7 linked regions of the Homo sapiens genome follow. The protein of the gene in region 1 interacts with the protein of each later gene in a biochemical or structural test. Each region holds a gene or a part of one and is shown in the gene's direction. Other genes may lie near its edges. The genes, in order: LRRK2, RAB5B, ANKS4B, MAP2K6, SYNJ1, GAK and LGALS8.

Evidence for each region.
Region 2: of the proteins of LRRK2 (region 1) and RAB5B, one has a biochemical effect on the other in vitro, tested with the Homo sapiens proteins (2 studies listed by IntAct).
Region 3: the proteins of LRRK2 (region 1) and ANKS4B interact on a protein array, tested with the Homo sapiens proteins (2 studies listed by BioGRID and IntAct, with this or other methods).
Region 4: of the proteins of LRRK2 (region 1) and MAP2K6, one has a biochemical effect on the other in vitro, tested with the Homo sapiens proteins (2 studies listed by BioGRID).
Region 5: of the proteins of LRRK2 (region 1) and SYNJ1, one has a biochemical effect on the other in vitro, tested with the Homo sapiens proteins (2 studies listed by BioGRID).
Region 6: the proteins of LRRK2 (region 1) and GAK interact on a protein array, tested with the Homo sapiens proteins (3 studies listed by BioGRID and IntAct, with this or other methods).
Region 7: the proteins of LRRK2 (region 1) and LGALS8 form a complex in vitro, tested with the Homo sapiens proteins (2 studies listed by BioGRID and IntAct, with this or other methods).

The regions. Positions count from the first base shown.
Region 1 is NC_000012.12:40,322,497-40,325,996, forward strand, and holds part of LRRK2 (leucine-rich repeat serine/threonine-protein kinase 2), read left to right. Parts: coding exon 1-14; intron 15-663; coding exon 664-810; intron 811-3,500. UniProt on the Homo sapiens protein: Serine/threonine-protein kinase which phosphorylates a broad range of proteins involved in multiple processes such as neuronal plasticity, innate immunity, autophagy, and vesicle trafficking.
Region 2 is NC_000012.12:55,984,078-55,987,577, forward strand, and holds part of RAB5B (ras-related protein Rab-5B), read left to right. Parts: intron 1-2,791; coding exon of another isoform or gene 2,792-2,883; coding exon 2,884-3,046; intron 3,047-3,500. UniProt on the Homo sapiens protein: The small GTPases Rab are key regulators of intracellular membrane trafficking, from the formation of transport vesicles to their fusion with membranes.
Region 3 is NC_000016.10:21,232,413-21,236,498, forward strand, and holds the start of ANKS4B (ankyrin repeat and SAM domain-containing protein 4B), read left to right. Parts: upstream 1-1,286; 5' UTR 1,287-1,325; coding exon 1,326-1,489; intron 1,490-4,086. UniProt on the Homo sapiens protein: As part of the intermicrovillar adhesion complex/IMAC plays a role in epithelial brush border differentiation, controlling microvilli organization and length. Plays a role in assembly of the complex.
Region 4 is NC_000017.11:69,421,197-69,424,696, forward strand, and holds part of MAP2K6 (dual specificity mitogen-activated protein kinase kinase 6), read left to right. Parts: intron 1-3,500. UniProt on the Homo sapiens protein: Dual specificity protein kinase which acts as an essential component of the MAP kinase signal transduction pathway.
Region 5 is NC_000021.9:32,662,014-32,665,513, reverse strand, and holds part of SYNJ1 (synaptojanin-1), read left to right. Parts: intron 1-442; coding exon 443-601; intron 602-797; exon of another isoform or gene 798-3,500. UniProt on the Homo sapiens protein: Phosphatase that acts on various phosphoinositides, including phosphatidylinositol 4-phosphate, phosphatidylinositol (4,5)-bisphosphate and phosphatidylinositol (3,4,5)-trisphosphate. Has a role in clathrin-mediated endocytosis.
Region 6 is NC_000004.12:887,317-890,816, reverse strand, and holds part of GAK (cyclin-G-associated kinase), read left to right. Parts: intron 1-194; coding exon 195-285; intron 286-1,846; coding exon 1,847-1,970; intron 1,971-3,500. UniProt on the Homo sapiens protein: Associates with cyclin G and CDK5. Seems to act as an auxilin homolog that is involved in the uncoating of clathrin-coated vesicles by Hsc70 in non-neuronal cells. Expression oscillates slightly during the cell cycle, peaking at G1.
Region 7 is NC_000001.11:236,547,982-236,550,731, forward strand, and holds part of LGALS8 (galectin-8), read left to right. Parts: intron 1-30; coding exon 31-180; 3' UTR 181-2,750.

The DNA.
Region 1 (3,500 bases):
GAAAGCAGAGGAAGGTATGTTTTGATACAACTTACAAATGCTTTTAAGTGATCCTTCAATACTTATGAAGTGACTTTTAATAAATGTAAATATTCTTATCCATAAGGGATGAGTTGAAAAATAGTATATTCAATTATAGGGACAGTTCAGAAAACTGAATTATATTTATTACCAATAAAATCTTGTATTCTAGATTCAGAAAATGTTGATTTGAGGGTTTGAATGCTGGCTTATTGAGCAACATAACCTCATCTGTGAAACCGGAATACCAACCACATCTATCTCATAGAACTGTTATAAAGATTCAAATAGACAATACATGGACCTAATTTACCAACATGTCTGCCATATAATAACAGCTGCAGCTTCATGAATGTGGCAAAAGCAGAGAGTAGATAACTTTCTAGTCAGATGTCTGGTAGTCTGCAGCAGTTCAGAATTCTACAAGTGAACGTAGGAATAAGTTTTTAAAATTCCAAGTAGATAGATACTAAGTGAATCTTTAAAATGTTCTCAAATTTCCTAGAGAAATATAGGATTGGTTAGAAAGGGAGGGATTAGAAATTATAGAAAATATTCCATTATTTTTTCACATCAAAACCACAAATTTATGTATCTCCTTAAATGTTGTTTTTATTTAAAAAATGTTTTATTACTTCTCAGGAGATCTCTTAGTAAATCCAGATCAACCAAGGCTCACCATTCCAATATCTCAGATTGCCCCTGACTTGATTTTGGCTGACCTGCCTAGAAATATTATGTTGAATAATGATGAGTTGGAATTTGAACAAGCTCCAGAGTTTCTCCTAGGTAATTCTTTTTGTTAATTTGAGAATAAAAATTAGGATGTAATTTTCTCCTTATAATTTAGAAAATAGATTTCATAATTATATTGTCATAGATTTTACTGTCTTCATATATTTGTTATAATTTTTGTATTTGGAATGATATATTTTAAAGGAATATAATATTACAGATCTGGAATTTGTTTTGCACATAATCATGTAGACTAGGATCAAGATGAGGATGAGATTATCATGGAAGCAGAAATATTTATGAAATATATCTTTGTATTTGCCTTAATTGCCAGGGATATGGGAGGCAAATAAGACAGTTTTCAGGTGAGTTAAGTGAAGCAGCCATATTTTATAAAATGACAGAATAGGTAAAGGAAGCACACCTCAGTGTAGCCATAGCAGGGGTTTTATGACTCAGTGTGACAATGCTGAATTCTCATAGAAATATTCATTAAAAGCCTTGAAATTAAAGTCAAAAGTGTTACATGGTGACATACTCAAATACTTTTTTTTTTTTTTTTGATATGCTGAACAATTTACATTTCTTGGTTCCGTGAATTCAATCAGTGATTTTCAGTAGAGTATGATGGAAATCATTGAATTCATGTAGCATGTTTAGGTGCTCATTGAGAAAAGGTGAAGTCATGGTAACCATGTTTCAATATTCTCATTTGTATCTTGACTTCCTGCACATGGATTTTTGGGCCTAAAAGATGTTTTTAAAACATGCTCATACACTTCAGAAGATGAAAAGTGTATGCATTATAACTACTTTGGGAAAGAAACAGTCAACATATGTTACTGTATGTCATTCTGTAGATTACATGTGTGGTTTCTCATGTCTCTCAGAATAAAAGCTAATGTCTTTACAAGACCTGCGATGCTGTGATCTGTCTGGCTCCTCGGTTATCATTTTTAAAAAAAGATATACTTTGTACAAATTTTTTTAATTGACAAGTAAAAATTGTATATATTTATGGTGTACAACATGATGTTTTGATATATGTATATGTTGTGGAATGGAGAAGTTTAGCTATTTAACATATACATTATCTCAAATATTTATGTGGTGAGAACTATTAAAATCTACTCTCATAGCAATTTACAAGTATACAGTATGTTATTATTAACTGTAGGCTGACATACTCAAGTTTTAAACATTCCTGAGAGTCATTGGGACAACTATGAAATGCATTAGATTGATTTAATATAAAGCATTTGAAGACAATTTTGACCTTACTTTGTTTAGTTTTTGTTGTTGTTGTGTGTATACATTTAATTTTAATCAAATTACCCCAGAAATAATGCCTAAGATCTGTCAGTCAGGACATAATATTATTAGCAAAAAGTTGTCCAAAATTTGAGACATGATATTTAAAGCTAAATAAACTCCTTTATACCCCTCTTATTGGCATTGATTGGGAAGTTTAGGTTGAATTTAAATGCTTTGGAACTCAGGAAGTTAATGTATTAGTAATAGTGGGTTAACATAAAATGCTGAATTGTCCTTGCTGAATCCTACATCTTAACCCCAGACTTCAAGGTATACAGGAAAGTACCAGACATGGTGCATCCTTCCTCTGAAGAAATCCCAAACTGTCAGACACAGATCCCTAAAATATTTCTTTTTCCTGCATTAAAATGTGTTTCAGATGAATGGACACGTTTTGAGTAGTGTATGTGGAAACGTCATTTACAAAGTCTGTTTAGTTGGCCAGGTGTAGTAGCTCACTCCTGTAATCCCAGCACTTTGGGAGGCCGAGGTGGGTGTATCACGAGGTCAGGAGTTGAAGACCAGCCTGACCAAGATGGTGAAACCTCATCTCTACTAAAAATACAAAAAAATTAACTGGGTGTGGTGGTGGGCATCTGTAATCTCAGCTACTCGGGAGGCTGAGGCAGAGAATTGCTTGAACCTGGGAGGCGGAGGTTGCAGTGAGCCGAGGTTGTGCCACTGCACTCCAGCCTAGGCGACAGAGCGTCTCAAAACAAAACAAAACAAAAAACAAAAAAGCAAAGTCTGTTTAGCTACCCATATAGGAAAATGTTTGTGATTACTCTCCCTTCTCTAGACCCATGTCCCATAAATCCATAAATCCCATGTTCATTTACAGAAAGCAGTCTAGATAGGAGTTTCTCAGTCTTTGAGCTGTTGCCATTTTGGCTTGGATAACTAACTCTTTCTTATCGAGGGTCATCCTGTGCACTGCAGAATGTTTGGCAGCATCTCTGTCTATCCACTAGATGTCAGTAGTATCTCCCCTTCCCTCAGATGTGACAATCAAAAATGTCTCCGGATGTTGCCAAAGATAAGGGGTGGGGTTGAATACCAGTGATTTAAACAAATTAGGTGTATCCTTCTAAAAACATTTTACAGGTAGCGACTCCAGCATCTTTATATTAGAGTAATCTGGAGAAGGTTATGCCTCTCTCAATTTTCCCTCTTTCCATTTTTATTTGTAGGGCAGCAATGCATTCAGGCTTTTGGTAACTCTTTTTCCCAAGATAGCAGTAACTATTATGCAGTGAGTAATACGACCCACCTTAATAGATATGAATAGACTTGTTTTGTGAATATATTTTAAAATATAAATGTATGGGATTCTGTTCATGCGTCTGAGAAGCCACAGGGTACATTTCCTCTTTGTGGAGCTATTTATTTTTCTGGAGAGCCAAGACAGGTATTTCCACTTCAGTGGTGTG
Region 2 (3,500 bases), about 16 Mb from region 1:
GTGGCACGATCTCGGCTCACTGCAACCTCCGCCTCCCGGGTTTAAGCAGTTCTGCCTCAGCCTCCCGAGTAGGATTACAAATGCCGGCCACCAACCACACCCGGCTAATTTTTTTTTTTTTTTTTTAGACTGAGTCTCGCTGTTGCTCTGTCGCCAGGCTGGAGTACAGTGGTGCAATCTCAGCTCACTGCAACCTCCACCTCACAAGTTCAAGCAGTTCACCTGCCTCAACCTCCCAAGTAGCTGGGACTACAGGCACGCGCCACCACGCCCAGCTAATTTTTGTATTTTTAGTAGAGACGGGGTTTCACCATGTTTGCCAGGCTTGTCTCAAACTCCTGACCTCCTGATCTGCCTGCCTTTGCCTCCCAAAGTGCTGGGATTACAGGCGTGAGCCACTGTGCCCGCCTTTTATTTTTTGAGACGGAGTCTCGCTCTGTCACCCAGGCTGGAGCACAGTGGCGCATCAGCTCAGTGCACCCTCTACCTTCTGGGTTTAAGCGATTCTCCTGCCTCAGCCTCTGGAGTAGCTGGGATTACAGGTATGCACCACCACACCCAGCTAATTTTTTTTGTATTTTTAGTGGAGACGGGGTTTCACCATGTTGGCCAGGCAGGGCTCGAACTTCTGACCTCAGGTGATCCACCTCAGCCTCCCAAAGTGCTGGGATTATAGGTATGAGCTACTGCACCCAGGCTGTGGCTGCTTTTTAGGAATATATTGATAACAACTAATATTGAGATATATTTTAATAGCTATTAGCACTATGCTAAACACATCTTTCACTTATTATTTGTAGCTATGAGGATGGTATTTTTTCCATTTTACAAAGGTAGAAGGTAAGGCTTAGAGAGGTAGAGAAATTCTCTTTATATCATATTAGTAATGATTAGTAGCTTAATATTTATTTAGCACTTAGTATCTATCAAATACTTAAAATACTTTAGTTATTTATATGCATTATCTCATTTAATCCTTACAACACCCTTATGAAGTAGGTGCTTATAAGGCTATTATCTCATTTTACAGATGAGGAAATGAATGCACACATATATTTAGTGACTTGCTCAAGGTTCATAGCTAGTAAGTAGAGCTGAAAAACAAACGTGGAGAATTGGACTCCAGAGCCTTTATTCCTCTGAATTGCCTCCTGTATGATTTTCTGTCTTTACGATCTAGTAAGTGGGGTTACTGAAAATTTTTAACCCCAGTTTAACTCCAGTCCCACTAATTGTGGTGACAAAATAATGATGTTTCCCCACATATGCCATAGAGTATGATGTCTGTGAAGTCACTAGGATCTGCTTTGGAAAAGCGAAAGAGTAATTTGAACAAGCAAAGTACAACTCTCAAGCAATGCTTAGGTTTGGGAGAGAGGTTTTTGCATGCTCTGCCTATGCTAACTTCCCTTTGAATTTCATAGTTCCTTTCCGCTCAGAGTCAGGATGATGAAATGTATTCAGATTTAGACGATTAGAATCTCAAAGTCCCAACTCTTCTCTCTGTTCCCTGCCCCACCAGCAGCTTTCTTAGCCCTCTTAGAAGATAGAGGAGCTGATTCAGTGTATTCTTTCATCAAATACTGATTGCTTGCAGACTTAACGCCCTATACCATCCTCTGGAGACTTCTGCATGTCTTTAGAAGGTATACCTTTCTCTGCCTCTAATTTGGAGGGCTACAGCTGTTAGGCCCCTTTGGTGTGGAGGGTAATCTAATCCCTAGGCACCAGCAAGACAGCTGCAAGTTGAGAGTAGGTCAAGCTTACTGATTCTTGATAGACTTTCAGATTTGGAAAGATGGCAGAAACAAAGTGAAAAAAGAGTTGTTAATGAAACAAAGAGTTGATAATGAATGTGATCTGTTGGTTGTATTTCTCTCTTTACCTTCAACCAAAAATGAGAAAGGATAGATTTTGTGGCAATGGGACCCTGGTTAGATCTTTAGAAATGTCTTATCAGGGAGACCGGTCATATATAAAGGATACAGCAGCAACTACCCTTCTGCCCTTAGGAGTGGTGACTCTTATCCCACACCCCTAGAGTGAATCTCTCATTTTGACAAAGAGCTAAGGAAAAATGAAAAGAAGGCCAGGCACGGTGGCTCATGCCTGTAATATCAGCACTTTGGAAGGCCAAGGCGGGCAGATCACCTGAGGTCAGGACTTCTTAGACTAGTCTGACCAACATGGAGAAACTCCGTCTCTACTAAAAATACAAAATTAGCCAGGCGTGGTGGTGCATGCCTGTAATCCCAGCTACTCGGGAGACTGAGGTGGGAGAATTGCTTGAACCCGGGAGGCAGAGGTTGTGGTGAGCCAAGATTGTGCCATTGCACTCCAGCCTGGGCAACAAGAGTGACGTCTCAAAAAAAAAGAAGAAAAGGAAAAGAAGAGCACAGCACCAGGATGCCAAGGAGATACTGGGGATCTAGGGTACCGGTGGGTGGATCTGGATATTCTTCAGGCCAGCTAAAGGTTGATCACTTTGTGTGACTCAAACAAAAAACTTTGAAGACCTGGTGGGGAATTACTGGGGAATTAAAAACTCTCAGTTTTCAGTCTCTCTATTTCGGCTCCCTTGGCAGTTAGAGATTATGTGGTAGGGCAGACTCCAGAAGCAGTTCTTATTTTGCTCTTCCCAACTCTTACCACTGAGGATCAGCTGCCTGGGACCTTCTCAGAGCTAAGTCCTCATAGAAGCAAGGAGATGAAGAGGTTCTATCCTTCTCTGAAAAGCGATTGCAGCTTCAATGGACGTATGTTTAATTTTATTCACTTTTTTTTCTTGCAGGAGTGTTGAAGCCTGGAAATCCCCTCCCCTTCCCCCTCCCCCCTTTACAGTATCCCCCTCCCTCCACCCTTTCCCATTCTGATAATCTGGCCATGACTAGCAGAAGCACAGCTAGGCCCAATGGGCAACCCCAGGCCAGCAAAATTTGCCAGTTCAAATTGGTCCTGCTGGGAGAATCTGCAGTGGGAAAGTCAAGCCTGGTATTACGTTTTGTCAAAGGGCAGTTCCATGAGTACCAGGAGAGCACCATTGGAGGTGAGTGCCTTGGGGTAATAGGAGATTGAATGTTTGGTAAGGGTTTTTTTTTTTTTAGATGGAGTCTTGCTCTGTTACCCAGGCTGGAGTGCAGTGGCGCAATCTTGGCTTACTGCAACCTCTGTCTCCCAGGTTCGAGCGATTCTCATGCCTCAGCCTCCCGAGTAACTGGGATTACAGGTGCACACCGTGGCACCTGTCTAATTTTTGTATTTTTAGTGGAGAGGGGGTTTCACCATCATGTTGGCCAGGTTGGTCTCAAACTCCTGACCTCAGGTGATCTGCCTGCCTCGGCCTCCCAAAGTGCTGGGATTACAGGCGTGAGTCACCACGCCGGGCCGGTAAGGCTTTTGAAAAGAGATATAAGACCTGATTATGGAGCTGGCCCTCTTAGTCCCATTCTTTTCCCCAGAAATGGAAACCCTTTATAAAAACAGAGGCCGGTCCCAGTGGC
Region 3 (4,086 bases), on another chromosome or scaffold:
TCTTTAACTGCATCCTATAAATCTTGATATGTGGTATTTTCATTTTCATTCTGTTCCAAATATGTCTGATATAGGACTTGTATCCAGAGTATATAAATAATTCTTATAATTTATTAATAAGACAACCACTTAAAAATTGGGCAAAAAGATTTGAATAGAAGATGTAAGAATGGCTAATGGGCACATGAAAAGATGCTCAATATCTTAGTCATTAGGAAATTGAAAATTAAAGCCATAATAAGACCACTTCATATCCACTAGGATGACCATAAACAAAAAGATAGGCAATAATAAGGCTGGCAAGGTTGTGGAGAAATTGAAACCCTCATACGTTATTGGTGGAAATGTGAAGTAGTACAGCCACTTTGGAAAACAGTCTGGCAACTTCTGAAATTTAAATGTAAATTGCCATGCAACCCAGCAGTTTCACTCCTTGATATATACGCAAGACACATGAAAATATGTGTCCACACAGAGACTTGTACATCAGTGCTCATAGCAGCATTATTCATCATTACTGAAAAATGGAAACAACCCAAATATTCATCATATTCATGAAACATTGAATGGATGAAGAACATGTGGTATGTTAGCACAGTGGAATATTATTCAGCAGTGAAAAGAAAGAAACCATTACATGCTACACATGACAAACCTCAAAAAAGTATGTGAATTGAAACAAGCTATACACTAAAGACTATATATTGTAGGATTCCATTTGTCTGAAATGCCCGTAAAAAACAAATCTATAGAGACAGAAAGCAGACTGTGGTTTCCTGAGGTTGGGAGTGGAAATGGGATTGACAGCAAATGGCATGAGGGATCTTTAAGGGCTGATGGAAACTGGATTATGATAATGGGCATGCAACTCTATAAATGTCCTAAAAATCATTGAATTGTATGCATGAAATGGGTAAATTTAATGATGTTATACCTCAATAAAGCTGTTCTTTTTGGAAAAAACAGCTAGTGAACTAGAGTAGCTCTGCATTTTATTAAGAAATTATTTCTTACATCCTGTGCCTAGATGGCCAATATTACACTCAAGAAACTAATGGACATAGAAAAATTGAATGTACCTCCAAACACTCAAGATGAATACAGCAGTCTTCAATAGTCAACGTCATGGCCATTCCAGAGAGAAAAGGTCCAAGTTCAGTGCCTCGAACCTTGTTGCCTTCCGTGAAAGGAAGCAGTTGAAATGAGCTTTGCCCCTGGTGACACTCTTCCTTGTCACTAATTAACCAGCTCTATAGGAAGGTTGCTCCGCCAACACCTTGCTCTGCCTGGAGAGACATCTGGCCAAGTTCTGGTGAGCAGGAAAAATGTCTACTCGTTACCACCAAGCTGCTAGTGATAGTTACCTGGAACTTCTAAAAGAGGCTACCAAGCGAGATCTAAATCTTTCGGATGAAGACGGCATGACTCCTACTCTCTTGGCAGCCTACCATGGGAACTTGGAAGCCCTAGAGATAATCTGCAGTAGAGGGTAAGTTCAACCCGATGGTTTCTGTTGGAAACAGTGTTCATGGTAGGTTTTTGCAGACAGCAGCAAGAGGCAGGGACGTCAATACAAATACTTTATCCTCTTTCTAGATTGTCTAAATGATTGGATTTTTAGAGAAAGAGAGAAAACTATGCCTAGAGATGCTCTCTTTTCTCACTGAGGACTGGCACTATAGGAGTGGCTCATCCCTTAGCCACAATCAGAGGAGAGACCCTGAACTACGGCATTATCTGCATGGGGAAGAGGGAAGATATTTTAATTCTATGCCTTTAAAAATGCTTTTCATGAAATTTAAATAGTTTTCTCTTTTCAAAGAGGCCATTGTTTTACTTGGTTTTAAGTTGCCAACCTTGGTTGGAACAAATGACATGGTTTTAGTTTTTTTTTTATCTATGCCATCAAAATCTCACAGTCTTTTATTAACTTTCAATCCCAGTGCAAGCTCATGATTTTTTTATTTTTTATTTTTGACACAGGGTCTTGCTCTTTTGAATGGAGTTGCTGGCTCTACAAGGACTCTTTAGCCTATCTTAACTCTATCACTTCTTTGGCTAGTGGATAGATACACACACACACACACACACACACACACACACACACACCCCATCTCTTTGCCCAGATTTTAATGGAGGAGTAAGCTAGTTCCTCTGCTTGTTCTGCCTGTTATCAGAGGGCTAGGTTGTGTTGGCAACCGTAACCCAAGAGGGGTAAAGAAAGAGAAAAGGACAAGGTAAATAAAGGAGCCAAGTGAATCCAATTGAATACCCATTTATTCAGTATTTGTTATGTGCCAGCCACTTATCTCTTAAGATAAGAGATATTTTGCTAGCCACTGGGCACACTGTGATCAACAAGACAGCCACAGTCCCTGTCATAGTGAGCAGATTTGAGAGGGGAAGACAAGACATCTATGATATTTGTGTGTGTGTGTGTGTGCATGTTTGCTCTGAGACAGGGTCTCACTCTGTCACTCAGGCTGGAGTGCAGTGTCAAGATCATAGCTGACTGCAGCCTTGAGCCCCAGGCTCAAGTGGTCCTCCCATCTGAGCCTCCCGAGTAGCTGGGACAAGAGGTGTGCACCACCATGCCCAGCAATTTTTGTACTTTTTGTAGTGATGGGGTTTTGCCATGTTGCCCAGGATGGTCTTCAACTTATGAGCTCAAGCGATCTGACAGCCTCGGTCTCCCAAAGTGCTGGGATTACAGCTGTGAGCCACTGTGCCTGGCTCATCTATGATATTTGTTACAAAAAGGGAAATAGAGGGCACTAAATAGGCATCTACCTCAATCTCAGGGGTGAGGGAAGGCTTCCCTAAGGGGAAAGCATTTAAGCTGGGATTAGGAAAATGAGAACAAGTTGGCTAGACGAAAGAGTGTTTTCCCTAAGATGGAAAACTGCTCTAGTTCTGAGAACTAGAGAAGCTGAGTATGGCTGGATGTGGTTCAAGTAGGAGTGGGGTCAGGACAAGTATAAGAGATAAGACCAGATCACAAAGAGCCTTGTCAACTCTGGTAAGGACTTTATCCTAAGGGCCCAGGAAGCCATGTCTTGGGTAGGGAAGCTGCCAGAGTAGATTTATGTTTACAAAACTCACTCAGGTAGATGGATAACAGTCGGAGAGAATGTTTGGGGACTGTTTTAGTGGTCGAGATGAGTTGGACTAGGGTAGTGACATTGGGAATGGGAAGATATGGTTGGATTTGAGTGGCAGTTTGGATGTAGAATCAATAATGATTGACTGGATGTGGGCAGATAAAGGAAAAGGAGGGTTAAGGTCCCAGGTTTTGGATGTTGACACCCTTTATTAAAATAGGGGACATTTAGGAAGTGTCAGAAGAACCCAGGATTGGGAGAGTTCCTGAGTTGAAGATTGAATGAGAAAGTGAGTGAAGCAGATCTTCCCCATCTCTCTTGTCTGAATAAGACTTTCTTTTCTCAGACACATCGATCCCCATCAGCCAGCCTTCTCCAGTCATCTCATCTCTTCTCCTACTCAGCCTAGGGTTCCCCAGCTTTCTCCATCTACTGAAAGTCTACCTCATTCCACAAACTGCAAGATGTCAGTTACTTTAAAATCAAAGTATTAGCCTATTCTTGCATTGCTATAAGGAAATGCCTGGGCCTAGGTAATTTATAAAGAAAAGAGGTTTCACTGGCTCATAGTTCTACGGGCTGTACAGGAAGTATAGTAGCTTCTGCTTTTGGGGAGCCTTCAGGAAGCTTCCAATCATGGCAGAAGGAAAAGGCATCTCACATGGCAGAAGCAAGAGCAAGAGAGCAAGGGGGGAGGTGCTAGAAACCAGATCTAATGAGAGCTCACTATCATGAGGACAGTACCAAGGGGAATGGTGCTAAACCATTCATGAGAAATTCGCCCCCACGATCCAGTCACCTCCCACCAGTCCCTACCTCCAACATTGCGGATTACAATTTGATTTGAGGTTTGTTCCCCACCAAATCTCACAGATCCAAACTGTATCAACCAGTGAGTTTGTCCTCCTAGAAGAGGGTTTGGGGGTTCTGGGGTTCTTCTCAGCAGAGAGCTCTTGTTCCATTTGAGGACATTTTGAATAGTAAT
Region 4 (3,500 bases), on another chromosome or scaffold:
AATTACAATGCAATTTTCTTCTTGTGCTTCTTCTTTGTTTGCACTGATATTCCCATTATGTATTTGCTTAATTATTTGGAAGTTGCAAGAACAGCATGAAAAGCAACTTATAATGGCTGGCGAAGTGTCATTTCTCCTACCTAAGCCTTCTGAACAGATTTAAAGGTTGCACAATTCTCTGCTAACTTTCTTTTTAAAAAATATGAGAAGATGAATTGTCCGAAGAATCCCATCCAATAGAATTGAAGTGATTTCTGCATCCTGTGCTGGTTTTAGGAGCTGGTTTTTAAGTCTATGAGGCTTCTGAAGGATTGTCAGAGACAATCCTTTTTTTGTTGTTGTTTTTTGTTTTTTTTTTTTGAGACAGAGTCTCGCTCTGTCACCCAGGCTGGAGTGCAGTGGTGCGATCTCAGCTTACTGCAACCTCCGCCTCCTGGGTTCACGCCATTCTCCTGCCTCAGCCTCCGGAGTAGCTGGGATTACAGGTGCCTGCCGCCACCATGCCCGGCTAATTTTTTTTGTATTTTTAGTAGAGATGGGATTTCACCGTGTTAGCCAGGATGGTCTCGATCTCCTGACCTCGTGATCCACCCGCCTCGGCCTCCCAAAGTGCTGGGATTACAGGTGTGAGCCACCACGCCCGGCCCAGAGACAGTGTTTTTAACAGCTGGCTGCCCTCTAACAAAACAGGGAACTTCGCAAGGATCACCTCCCAGTGAAATGATTCTTCACTTCCTCCTTGACCACCTCCACTGCCTCTGCCCAGCCCCTTCCTCCCTGGCTTGTACCCCACTCTGTCTCCTTTGATGGTCTTCCTGAGTTGGCCCATGCGGTTCAGTATGTAGTCCATAATCTCCCTCTTTCTGAGTTGAGGAGGATATTCAGGTTATAATCCCCATACAATGAAGTCTATCAGAAATCATCGTAATTTTTTTTTTTTTTTTTTTTTTTTTGAGATGGGGTCTTGCTCTGTCACCCAGACTGGAGTGCAGTGGTGCAACCTCAGCTCACTGAAACCTCTGATTCCCAGTTTCAAGCAATTCTCCTGCCTCAGCCTCCCGAGTAGCTGGGATTACAGGTGCCTGCCACCATACCAGGCTAATTTTTGTATTTTTAGTAGAGACAGGGATTCATCATGTTGGCCAGGCTGGTCTCAAACTCCTGACCTCAGGTGATCCACCCACCTCGGCCTCCCGAAGCACTGGGATTACAGGTATGAGCCACCACGCCTGGCCAAATCATCGTAATTTAGTCAACTCCAGTCTGAGTTGAAGCATTAAATAAGCATTTGCAGCATCCCTGTCATCTGTTTTACTTTCTGGTCTGTACATCCCTTCTTAAGTCAGATTCTTGAGATTAGTCTTCTTTGGACAGACCATTAGCCCCAGGTGGAGCTGCTGATCACAACCCCTCCCTGTACCACTCCCAAGGCTGTTGTCATCATCACTTACCCTAAGCCAGTTACTTTTCATATAGTATGCTTTAGGATGTCCCATAAACACTATGGACAAAGTTGGTGTTATTATCCTTAATTTACGAGTGAGGAAATCAATTGTTGTTAACCAATTTGCCCATGGCTGGATAGCGAGTCAGTGGCAGAGGCAGGATGGATGTCTGACTGGTGGGCCTGTGCAGCAAACTGCAGCTCCTGGGCCAAATCTAGCTTCAGCTGTTGTTTTTGTTTGTTTGTTTGTTTGTTTGTTTGAGATGGAGTTGCGCTCTTGTTGCCCAACTGGGAGTGCAATGGCGCGATCTTGGCTCACTGCAATCGCCACCTCCTGGGTTCAAGCGATCCTCCTGCCTCAGCCTCCCGAGTAGCTGGGATTACAGGTGTGCACCACCACGCCCAGCTAATTTTTTGTATTTTTAGTAGAGACGGGGTTTCACCATGTTGGCCAGGATGATCTCGATCTCTTGACCTTGTGATCCGTCCTCCTCGGCCTCCCAAAGTGCTGGGATTACAGGCGTGAGCCATCGTGCCCGGCCAAGCCTCAGCTGTTTTTAAGTATAGCCCGTGAGCGAAGATGGTTTTCCCATTTTTAAATGATTGAAAAAAAATCAAAATCAATGTTTCATGACACATGAAAATGATACGAAATTCAAATTCAGCATCGACAAACAAAGTTTTATTGGAACACAGCTATGGTCATTCATTTATATGTTTTCCATGGCTGCTCTTTGCTCGACAGCTGTCGAGTTGAGTAGTTGCGCCAGAGCCCCTATGTCCCACAAAGCCAAAAATATTTGCTATCTGGTCCCTTGCAGAAAATGTTTGTTGACCCTTTCCTTTATGACTTTATTCCATCGAATACTGGGGTCTCTTCATGACAGAGCTCCCAGAAACATTCCTCTCTGGCTTTAATTGGAAGTTGTTAACCTGGATAACTACTGCTCTGCTGCTCAGCCAGAGACCTCTTGGGCCCAGCCCACAGGAAACGTCTGAGTGGTGTCTCTCCTAGTTATAAGAATTGTAGGTCATTGCTCATTTCCTCTGAACTAAGTTACCCGTCTCCTTTTGCCCGTCCTGGGGTCTTTTCCCCTTAGTTGTGTTCTTCCTGTTTGCTTTATATTTCTTTCCTTTTTTTCTTCCCTTCGATGAGAAGCTGCTTATTAATTCTTCCCTGAGACTCTTCATCCTCCCCTTATTGATCCCACATTTCTTTAGAAAGTATTAGGTTGGTGCAAAAGTAATATTGTTTTTTATCATCACTTTTCATGGCAAAAACCACAATTACTTTTGCACCGACGTAAGAAATCAAAAATAACTCTCCTGCTACCACCATTGCCTGGCTTGTTGGTTATCATCATGACCCAGCTCAGAGGTTCCATCATTTCTTTTGTGTCAACGTGAAAGCCTCCCTGCATGGGACCAGAGAGGTTTCCAGTTATCATCTCCTGCAAAGTTTAGAGCTGTTTTCTTACATTAACCCCCTAACCCCGGGTGGGCAATTTTCTTTTGAGGACGAATATTCTTTGTGCTCACAGAGTCGCTTACATCGTGGATATTGGGTATATTTAGGAGAGAAGGTTTTGATAGAGGGTCTGAAAATGAAGGGAGGTGAAAGCTACATGTAGACAGAGGAGCTTTGGTAGAATGAGCCCAGATTTGTTCACCACATCCAGAATGATGTAAATTTAAGTCACGTACAAAGAAGTGCTAATTTCTACCATCCCAGATGGTATCACTGCTGTGATTCTTTCTGTGCTCCAGATACTGTGCTTAGTGATGAATGTGAATTCTATCATTTACTCTCACTATGGATCAGTGAGGTGATATCCCATTTTGTAGATCAGCAAACTGAGGCCGGAGAGGTTAAGAACTTGCCTCAGTTACCAAACCGATAGTGGCAGAGCAGAGGTTTTAGCCAAGGTCTGTCTGACCTCAGAATCTGAGCTCCTGGCGACTCCACTTGAGACGTCACTCCAAAATAAAGGTATGAAATCCATTACACCAAAGACATGGTCGAAGAATGAAAAACGAGTGTATTCTGTAGGAATTT
Region 5 (3,500 bases), on another chromosome or scaffold:
CCTTCCACTGAATACACAATTTAGTGTGGCTCAGTGAATCTGCATTTTTGCATAAACAATAGGGCAGAGGAAGCAGTCAGATGTGCATTTGTCTCAGGTGAGTCTCAGAGGGATGACTTTGAGTTCAGTCTATACTTTGTCCACAAGGAATTTCCTGTGGGCAAATTGTGAGGGAGTTATGTAGCTTCTTATCTTTGGAGCTATCTTATTTAGGAGTAAAATGGGAGGCAGGTTTACCTGTCATAGTTCCTGGCTTGATTTTTCTCTGGGCTTAGTGATTTTGGGGTCCTGAGATTTATTTTCGTTTCACATGTGTTATTACTGTTGGGTCAAAGAAACAGGACATGGGAGGAGACAAGCATATCTCAGGCAAAGAAATAGTTGTAAAACATTTTTGAACATTGATTGTTTTGAATTTAAAATTCTATCTCATTGCTTTCAGGGAAGGATGCTATTTTCCCATGACTATGTATTTTGGTGTGGTGATTTCAACTATCGAATCGATCTCCCTAACGAAGAAGTTAAAGAGCTCATAAGACAGCAAAATTGGGATTCTCTTATAGCAGGAGATCAACTTATCAATCAGAAAAATGCTGGACAGGTATATCTATACTTGAGAAAATACTTGCATTAAGATTTTGGGTCGTGAAACATGCCTTTTTAAATCAAGATGTTTTAAAATTTTCTTGGGGTCTTTTTGTACTTAAATATGCATCTGTAGGTAAACAGATAATAGAATTATCTTTCCTTAAAGTGTAGCAGGATGAGCTGCAGACAAGAACCCTTCAGACACCAAGTTGTAGAAGGAAAGGGCTTTATTCAGCTGGGAGCAGCAGCGGACTCACGTCTCCAAAAACCGAGCTCCCCGAGTGAGCAATTCCTGTCCCTTTTAAGGGCTTACAGCTCTAAGGGAGTCCATGTGAGAGGGTCGTGATCGATTGAGCAAGCAGGGGGTATGGGACTGGGGGCTGCATGCACTGGTAATCAGAATGGAACAGGACAGGGATTTTCACGATGCTTTTCCATACAATGTCTGAAATCTATAGATAGCACAAGCGGTTAGGTCAAGGGTTGATTTTTAACTACCAGGCCCAGGGCACAGTGCTGGGCTATCTGCCTGTGATTCCATTTCTGCCTTTTAGTTTTCACTTCTTTCTTTGGAGGCAGAAATTGGGCATAAGACAATATGAGGGGTGGTCTCCTCCCTTATTCCCCCCTTTGAGAACTTCACTCATTAATGGGAGTTCTCACTTTCATCCTCATTACCCATGTCTTCTTGCAAGACAGATTGATAGTGATTCATATGGTACACTTGCGCTGAAGCATTTTGGTGAGCTAAGGTAGTGATGAAGCTTTTTATCATTTGAAGAAGTACAAGTAGCAAACAAGGGAGCAGTAAGCAGGTTCCTATTACTATTATAACTCCTATTATAAGAGTTTTAAATCCTCCTAGCACTGGGAACCATTTTTCAAACATGGCCCCCGGATCAAATCCATGCCACACTTGCACAGGCACATGTGTCAGTTTTGTCATATCTCTAATTATGTCTTCAACTACTTGCCCTTCATCATCTGTGTATAGACAGCAATTAGTAAGGTTAAATTTCCCACAGACCCCCACCTTCAGCTGCTAGCAAGTAGTCGAGAGCCAATCTATTTTGATAGATAGCATTTCTCATCTGAGACTCTTGCCAGGGCAGTATAGTCAAGGCTCTGCCAGTTTTATTAGTGATTATTTCTAAGACAGCTTGTAACCGTATGATTCGGTTGAGCATGTAAATGGGGGTCCAGTATCCCCACGAGCCATCTTGTGCCCAAGTAGCAGGTCTGTAATATTGTATGATTCTCTCAGGGGGCCATTCATCATCTTTCCAATTTCCTATAGCTATGCTTCTCTTTTCTCGGGCAGCATAGACAGGGAAACCCAGGAGTTTGCCTGTCTTTATGGGCAGTAGGAAGAAAGATGGTTTAATAGTGCCAATAACACAACTACCTGTCCACTGGTTGGATAATTTGGCACAAGCTCTATGCCCACATATACAGTATAATCCAGTGGGGGCTGTCCAGTCCTGGTGGGACTCCGGATGGGTCCACACGGTTTGCAACTTTGGGAATTTACTAAATGGATTCCTTTCTGTGTGATTTGAACTCCACCAAGTGACTGTTTTTGTGGTACCATTATACAGTTTCTGTCCCAGACAACTAAGTCATCCTACGGGGTGAGTGAATTCTTTTCCTTCTCCAGCTATGCAATATTGTCCAATAATTGAGGTTTTTAGGACCCAGAAATTATCAGGGTGATTCTTTTGAGCTGGGAATTCATCAGGAACTGGGTCTGTAGGTACTAATTCTCGGGCTTCTCGTGGCCATTGATCTCCCATTACAGTTCCTCCACATACATAATGTGAAGCAACATTGAGAGACTAGGCTACATGCTTGGCTAATTGCAAAAACAAATTTCTTGTTTTTCCTGGAATTTCTGGTACTGGCACATTTAGTTCATCATAGAAAGTTTGAAGCACTGGCTCAGGAGAGTGTTTGTAAACTTCTCCTCGAACTAAGATATTTACTCGAGGATCCAGTCCAGCCCCATTGATTCCTAAGGTCACACGCTCCCCTTTTTTCCAGCGAGGATCAAGGGGATTGGTTATTACTAGCTCTAAGGGGTTACATTGTCCCTTAGTACAGGAAGGGCCACTTTTTCCTTTCTGAAGCTGCACTGGATCCTTTTCATTTTTTATCCAAGTGGCCCAAATGACACCAGTATCCACATTGATTTCCACACAGTCCTAATTCATGACAAATATACTTATTTTTGGTCATATAGCCTTTTTCCCAATCAAAAGCCACACCCCTTCCTAACTTATTGCTCTTAATGACAGCACAGGCATCAAATTTCAAGATTATGCGTTTGGGCACCCCTTTTTCTTCTGTTTTGGCTAATACTTGTATCATTTACAAGTCCCCATCAGTCTTCAGTCCTTAATCTTACTTCAAAAACTGTGGACCTGGGAGGCCACAGAGGGATCATAACACACATCTGGGCAGTCGTTTCCTAGGCTACATACCTCGTACTGAGTGTCATTATATAAACACGTTCCTTTTAAAGTTCCTAGGCATTCATAGTAACTATAGAACAGAAAGATTGTTTTAACTTGTTACCCTACCTCAGTAACCTGATGTATACACTGAGAGCAGTCTTCTATGCAGGGAAAATCAGTGGAAGTTTTTACTATACAAGTCCAAATTATAAGGAAAATGAGTCCCACGATGATTCTCCTCATGCCTCGGCCGTGCGTAGACCAGTCAGCTTCCGGGTGTGACTGGAGCAGGGCTTGTCATCCTCCTCAGAGTCACTTTCAGGAGTTGTCTGGGCTCGGTTTTGCCTCCCAAGTTTCAGCAGCTGCAGGTTTCACACGGCTGTGGTGGATCCAGGCTGGGATTCCTTCTCCTTTACAGCCGTGGGGGTGGTCAGGATGATGGTGTGAGGTCTTTTCCAC
Region 6 (3,500 bases), on another chromosome or scaffold:
GGGATGAGGGCTGCGTGCGTTTGTTGAGTTCCAGCTGATGCTTCAGCCTGTGGGAAGTTCCTCCCTTGCACTGTGTCATAGATCAGGGGGCAGAAGGATGGGCTCTGAGGGCACCCATACCGTACCTCTGCCCGACGTGGGCAGGCGTGAGTTGTCAGTTTAGAGAACTGACCTCTGCATTTTCATTGTCACAGCTCCTGGAGCAGAATGGAGGCTACGGGAGCGCCACACTGTCCCGAGGGCCACCCCCTCCCGTGGGCCCCGCTGGCAGTGGCTACAGTGGAGGTGAGTGCCCTGTCCTGTGCCCGCCACCTGTCCCTCGCTCCTGCTGCACCCCGGGCACCCGCAGCACATTGGGATGGAGTCTGGGGTCCTTCTCTCCCGGGGCCTCCTCTCCCACCAGAGATGACTGTGAGGTCAGGGTCCCTGAGCACACCCTCAGGTTCGGCAGTTCCCTGGGGCTCACAGAGCTCAGCAAAGCTGGTGTCTTGGTGCAGTTCAGGAGGGGGTCAGGATTCGGACTAAAGCCAGCCAAGGGAAGAGGCTCCAGGGCAGGGCCCAGGAGACCGGGCCCGAGTGACCAGGCGGCCTCGCTCAGGGGTTATGTGGGAGGCAGCCTGCGCCGTGGCCAAGACCCCAGCATAGATCACATTGTCGTGTCTGGCACAGCCCAAGGCCCCAGGGAAACAGACACCCCTTTTGGGGCTGGAGGGGGCATCCCAGGTTCCTTCCCAGGAGCTGGGAATGAAGGGCCAGGCCTGCTGTGGGCAAGGTGAACCATTTACTACAGTAGCGACCCTGAGGCCAGGGGGCAGGAGCAGGCATTGGACAGTGGAGGGCGGTGGGGGAAGACAGTTCTGCCGCTAGTGTGAGGTGGCCCCTTCTGCCGCATGAGGAGTGGGCACCTGTGATGGGCCTGGGTGTCCCTGGAGGGCCCTCAGCTGGTGAGGAGTGGAGAGGGCCCTGGAGACAGACGCTGCATGCTCTTGGAACTCCGTGCCGGGAGTGTTCCAGAAGGTTCCGGGTGAGCCGTCGAGGACATGGCCCTGACAGGCAGCGGCTGGGTCTGCAGCTCTGCATGGCGCTGACCCCTCCCGACCTCGCCCCGCATCCCCACTGCGGTGTGGGAGGTTTCACCTGGGTCCTTCACCTCCGCTTCCCAGGGAGGAGCTCAGCTCCATGTCTGGGGCACCCCGGTCCGTGCAGTGTGGGTCCCACACATGCAGGTGTAGTGGCTGGCTGGGTCTCTGCTGGCTGGAGGAAGGGTGAGTCCTCGAGCTGCTGGGTTCTGCAGTGCCCCCATCTGCTCGGTGCTGCCTGGGCCTCGGTCTCCTGTCTGCATGAGGGACTTTGGCCAGGTGTTTTTTTTTTAACACCACTTGTGCCACCAAAGCCGCCTGTGAAGACCTCACTCGCAGGACCCACCAGGCCAGGGGCCACCACTCTGCCTTCACGTCCAGGGTCATGGTGGCCTGAAGCTGTGGCCGTGAGGCCGGACTATCCCCACAGACAGAGTCCCAGCCCCAGCTGTGCTGAGGCGGCCACATAGCCCTTCCGCACCCAGATTGACCATTTCCTGGGTCTCTGGAAAGGCTGAGGACAGGGTAGACCTGCCAGTGCTGAGGCCTGGCTTCCCGCTGGGTACGTGTGGGTCAGGGGCCTGGCCATACCACCCACTCCCTGCTCCTGCTGCCTGGGCCCAGCCAGCAACCTGCACCTGGGGAGGTGGGACCGAGCGCCTGGGGAGGTGGGACCGAGCGCCTGGGGCCTGGGCCCAGCCAGCAACCCGCACCTGGGGAGGTGGGACCGAGCACCTGGGGCCTGCTGAGACTGTGTCTCCCTGCAGGCCTGGCGCTGGCGGAGTACGACCAGCCGTATGGCGGCTTCCTGGACATTCTGCGGGGTGGGACAGAGCGGCTCTTCACCAACCTCAAGGACACCTCCTCCAAGGTCATCCAGTCCGTCGCTAAGTGAGTGTGAGGCTCCAGAGCCCTGGACCTGCCGCACGCTCGTTCCAGGCTGCAGCCCCGGCCCTTGCTTCCTGGCTGCGGTGGAACAGCTGGTCATCAGGCCCCACAGGGGCCCCTGAGGCAGTGGGACAGCATCACCCGCTTCTCCCAGGGAGTCGGAATGAGCCCAGCATCCCACAGAGCCAGGCAGATCCCTTTCCTTTCATCGCCTGGGGGGCAAGGCCCTGCTGAGGAGATGCCTGGGCCCTCCCCTCCCTTGCTGCAATGTCGCCCCTCACTCTGGGGCGTTCCTGGCTTGTTCCCGGGACTCTGTAAATTGGGTGAAACCTCGGTGGTGGCGCCTCACTGAGCCAGTCCTTGAGTTAAAGCCCTAGTTACTCAGACTTAGACCAGGTGAGTCCCAGCCTGTGGTGGGAGAAAGTCTCCCTCTGGGTGGGCTGTCCAAGGGCGCGTCTGTGCGGGGGTGGCCCCGACATCGGCCCACAGGCCCGGCAGCCTCTGCTCACGGAACACTGGGAATGTTCCAGAGTGCGGCCCCTCTGCGTTGCGGGGTCCATGCGCTGGCTCTTCTGAGGAGCTGAACGCCCAGGAGCACGCTGGCTGCTCATCTGGCCCTGCGGTCGCACCAGCTCAAGGGCGTCGGCTATGTCAGGAAACAGCCTAGGAGCTGGGCTGGACTGGTGCCCGTGATGCAGGAACTGCGGCCCCTGGTGGGCCCACGTTCCTTCCACAGCTGGCGACACCTTCGGGCTTTTTCTTATGTTTTTTGTTCTGTGCTGTGATCACTGTTTTGTGTCCCCAGCACCAGGTAGACGTGTGTGCACTTGTGCCTGCATGTACCGCAGCGTCTGCACATGTGAGCGTGGGTGCATGTGTCTTTGAGCATGTGTGCATGTGAGGGAATGGGTGTGTTAACATACATATGTGAACATGTGTGCATGTGTGTGTAAATGCTGGTGTGAGTATGTGCATAGGCGTGTGTGATTGCTGGTATGAGCATGTGTGCTGGTGCTTGTGAGTCCTTGTGCTTGTGAATCCTTGTGTGAGCTGAGTGCTCGTATTGTGTGCAGGCACGTGTATGAGCACATGTGCATGTTGGAGCATGTATGCGTGTGTGCATGTGTATGCATGTGTAGGAGTGCTTGTGAGTGCGCGTGAGCTGTGTGCATGTGTACACGTGTGCGAGTGCCTGTGAGTGCACGTGAACTGCATGCATGTGTACGCATGCGCGCGAGTGCCTGTATGAGCCGCGTGCATGTGTACGCATGAGTAGGAGTGCCTGTGAGTGTGCGTGAGCTGCGTGCATGTGTACACACGCATGCAAGTGTGTGTGAGCCACATGCATGTGTACGCATGCACACAAGTGCCTGTGTGCGTGAGCTGCGTGCATGTGTATGCATGTGTGCGAGTGCCTGTGAGTGCATGTGAGCCGCATGCATGTGTGCACATGCGCGCGAGTGCCTGTGCCTGAGCTGTGTGCACATGTATGCATGCGTAGGAGTGCCTGTGAGTGAGCATGAGCCGCGTGCA
Region 7 (2,750 bases), on another chromosome or scaffold:
CCACTAATGGCATGTATCCTTTCCTTTCAGATGATAATTTATTGTGATGTTAGAGAATTCAAGGTTGCAGTAAATGGCGTACACAGCCTGGAGTACAAACACAGATTTAAAGAGCTCAGCAGTATTGACACGCTGGAAATTAATGGAGACATCCACTTACTGGAAGTAAGGAGCTGGTAGCCTACCTACACAGCTGCTACAAAAACCAAAATACAGAATGGCTTCTGTGATACTGGCCTTGCTGAAACGCATCTCACTGTCATTCTATTGTTTATATTGTTAAAATGAGCTTGTGCACCATTAGGTCCTGCTGGGTGTTCTCAGTCCTTGCCATGAAGTATGGTGGTGTCTAGCACTGAATGGGGAAACTGGGGGCAGCAACACTTATAGCCAGTTAAAGCCACTCTGCCCTCTCTCCTACTTTGGCTGACTCTTCAAGAATGCCATTCAACAAGTATTTATGGAGTACCTACTATAATACAGTAGCTAACATGTATTGAGCACAGATTTTTTTTGGTAAAACTGTGAAGAGCTAGGATATATACTTGGTGAAACAAACCAGTATGTTCCCTGTTCTCTTGAGCTTCGACTCTTCTGTGCGCTACTGCTGCGCACTGCTTTTTCTACAGGCATTACATCAACTCCTAAGGGGTCCTCTGGGATTAGTTATGCAGATATTAAATCACCCGAAGACACTAACTTACAGAAGACACAACTCCTTCCCCAGTGATCACTGTCATAACCAGTGCTCTACCGTATCCCATCACTGAGGACTGATGTTGACTGACATCATTTTCTTTATCGTAATAAACATGTGGCTCTATTAGCTGCAAGCTTTACCAAGTAATTGGCATGACATCTGAGCACAGAAATTAAGGCAAAAAACCAAAGCAAAACAAATACATGGTGCTGAAATTAACTTGATGCCAAGCCCAAGGCAGCTGATTTCTGTGTATTTGAACTTAGGGCAAATCAGAGTCTACACAGACGCCTACAGAAAGTTTCAGGAAGAGGCAAGATGCATTCAATTTGAAAGATATTTATGGGCAACAAAGTAAGGTCAGGATTAGACTTCAGGCATTCATAAGGCAGGCACTATCAGAAAGTGTACGCCAACTAAGGGACCCACAAAGCAGGCAGAGGTAATGCAGAAATCTGTTTTGTTCCCATGAAATCACCAATCAAGGCCTCCGTTCTTCTAAAGATTAGTCCATCATCATTAGCAACTGAGATCAAAGCACTCTTCCACTTTACGTGATTAAAATCAAACCTGTATCAGCAAGTTAAATGGTTCCATTTCTGTGATTTTTCTATTATTTGAGGGGAGTTGGCAGAAGTTCCATGTATATGGGATCTTTACAGGTCAGATCTTGTTACAGGAAATTTCAAAGGTTTGGGAGTGGGGAGGGAAAAAAGCTCAGTCAGTGAGGATCATTTTATCACATTAGACTGGGGCAGAACTCTGCCAGGATTTAGGAATATTTTCAGAACAGATTTTAGATATTATTTCTATCCATATATTGAAAAGAATACCATTGTCAATCTTATTTTTTTAAAAGTACTCAGTGTAGAAATCGCTAGCCCTTAATTCTTTTCCAGCTTTTCATATTAATGTATGCAGAGTCTCACCAAGCTCAAAGACACTGGTTGGGGGTGGAGGGTGCCACAGGGAAAGCTGTAGAAGGCAAGAAGACTCGAGAATCCCCCAGAGTTATTTTTCTCCATAAAGACCATCAGAGTGCTTAACTGAGCTGTTGGAGACTGTGAGGCATTTAGGAAAAAAATAGCCCACTCACATCATTCCTTGTAAGTCTTAAGTTCATTTTCATTTTACGTGGAGGAAAAAAATTTAAAAAGCTATTAGTATTTATTAATGAATTTTACTGAGACATTTCTTAGAAATATGCACTTCTATACTAGCAAGCTCTGTCTCTAAAATGCAAGTTGGCCTTTTGCTTGCCACATTTCTGCATTAAACTTCTATATTAGCTTCAAAGGCTTTTAAACTCAATGCGAACATTCTACGGGATGTTCTTAGATGCCTTTAAAAAGGGGGCAGATCTAATTTTATTTGAACCCTCACTTTCCAACTTCACCATGACCCAGTACTAGAGATTAGGGCACTTCAAAGCATTGAAAAAAATCTACTGATACTTACTTTCTTAGACAAGTAGTTCTTAGTTAACCACCAATGGAACTGGGTTCATTCTGAATCCTGGAGGAGCTTCCTCGTGCCACCCAGTGTTTCTGGGCCCTCTGTGTGAGCAGCCAGGTGTGAGCTGTTTTAGAAGCAGCGTGTTGCCTTCATCTCTCCCGTTTCCCAAAAGAACAAAGGATAAAGGTGACAGTCACACTCCTGGGTTAAAAAAAGCATTCCAGAACCACTTCTCTTTATGGGCACAACAAAGAAACGAAGGCTGAAGTTCGCCTACCCAAAATGAAAAGTAGGCTTTACAGTCAAAAGTACTTCTGTTGATTGCTAAATAACTTCATTTTCTTGAAATAGAGCAACTTTGAGTGAAATCTGCAACATGGATACCATGTATGTAAGATACTGCTGTACAGAAGAGTTAAGGCTTACAGTGCAAATGAGGCGTCAGCTTTGGGTGCTAAAATTAACAAGTCTAATATTATTACCATCAATCAGGAAGAGAATAATAAATGTTTAAACAAACACAGCAGTCTGTATAAAAATACCGTGTATCATTTACTCTTTCTGCAGCTCTATACGATAGGCAGGAGAGGCTTAT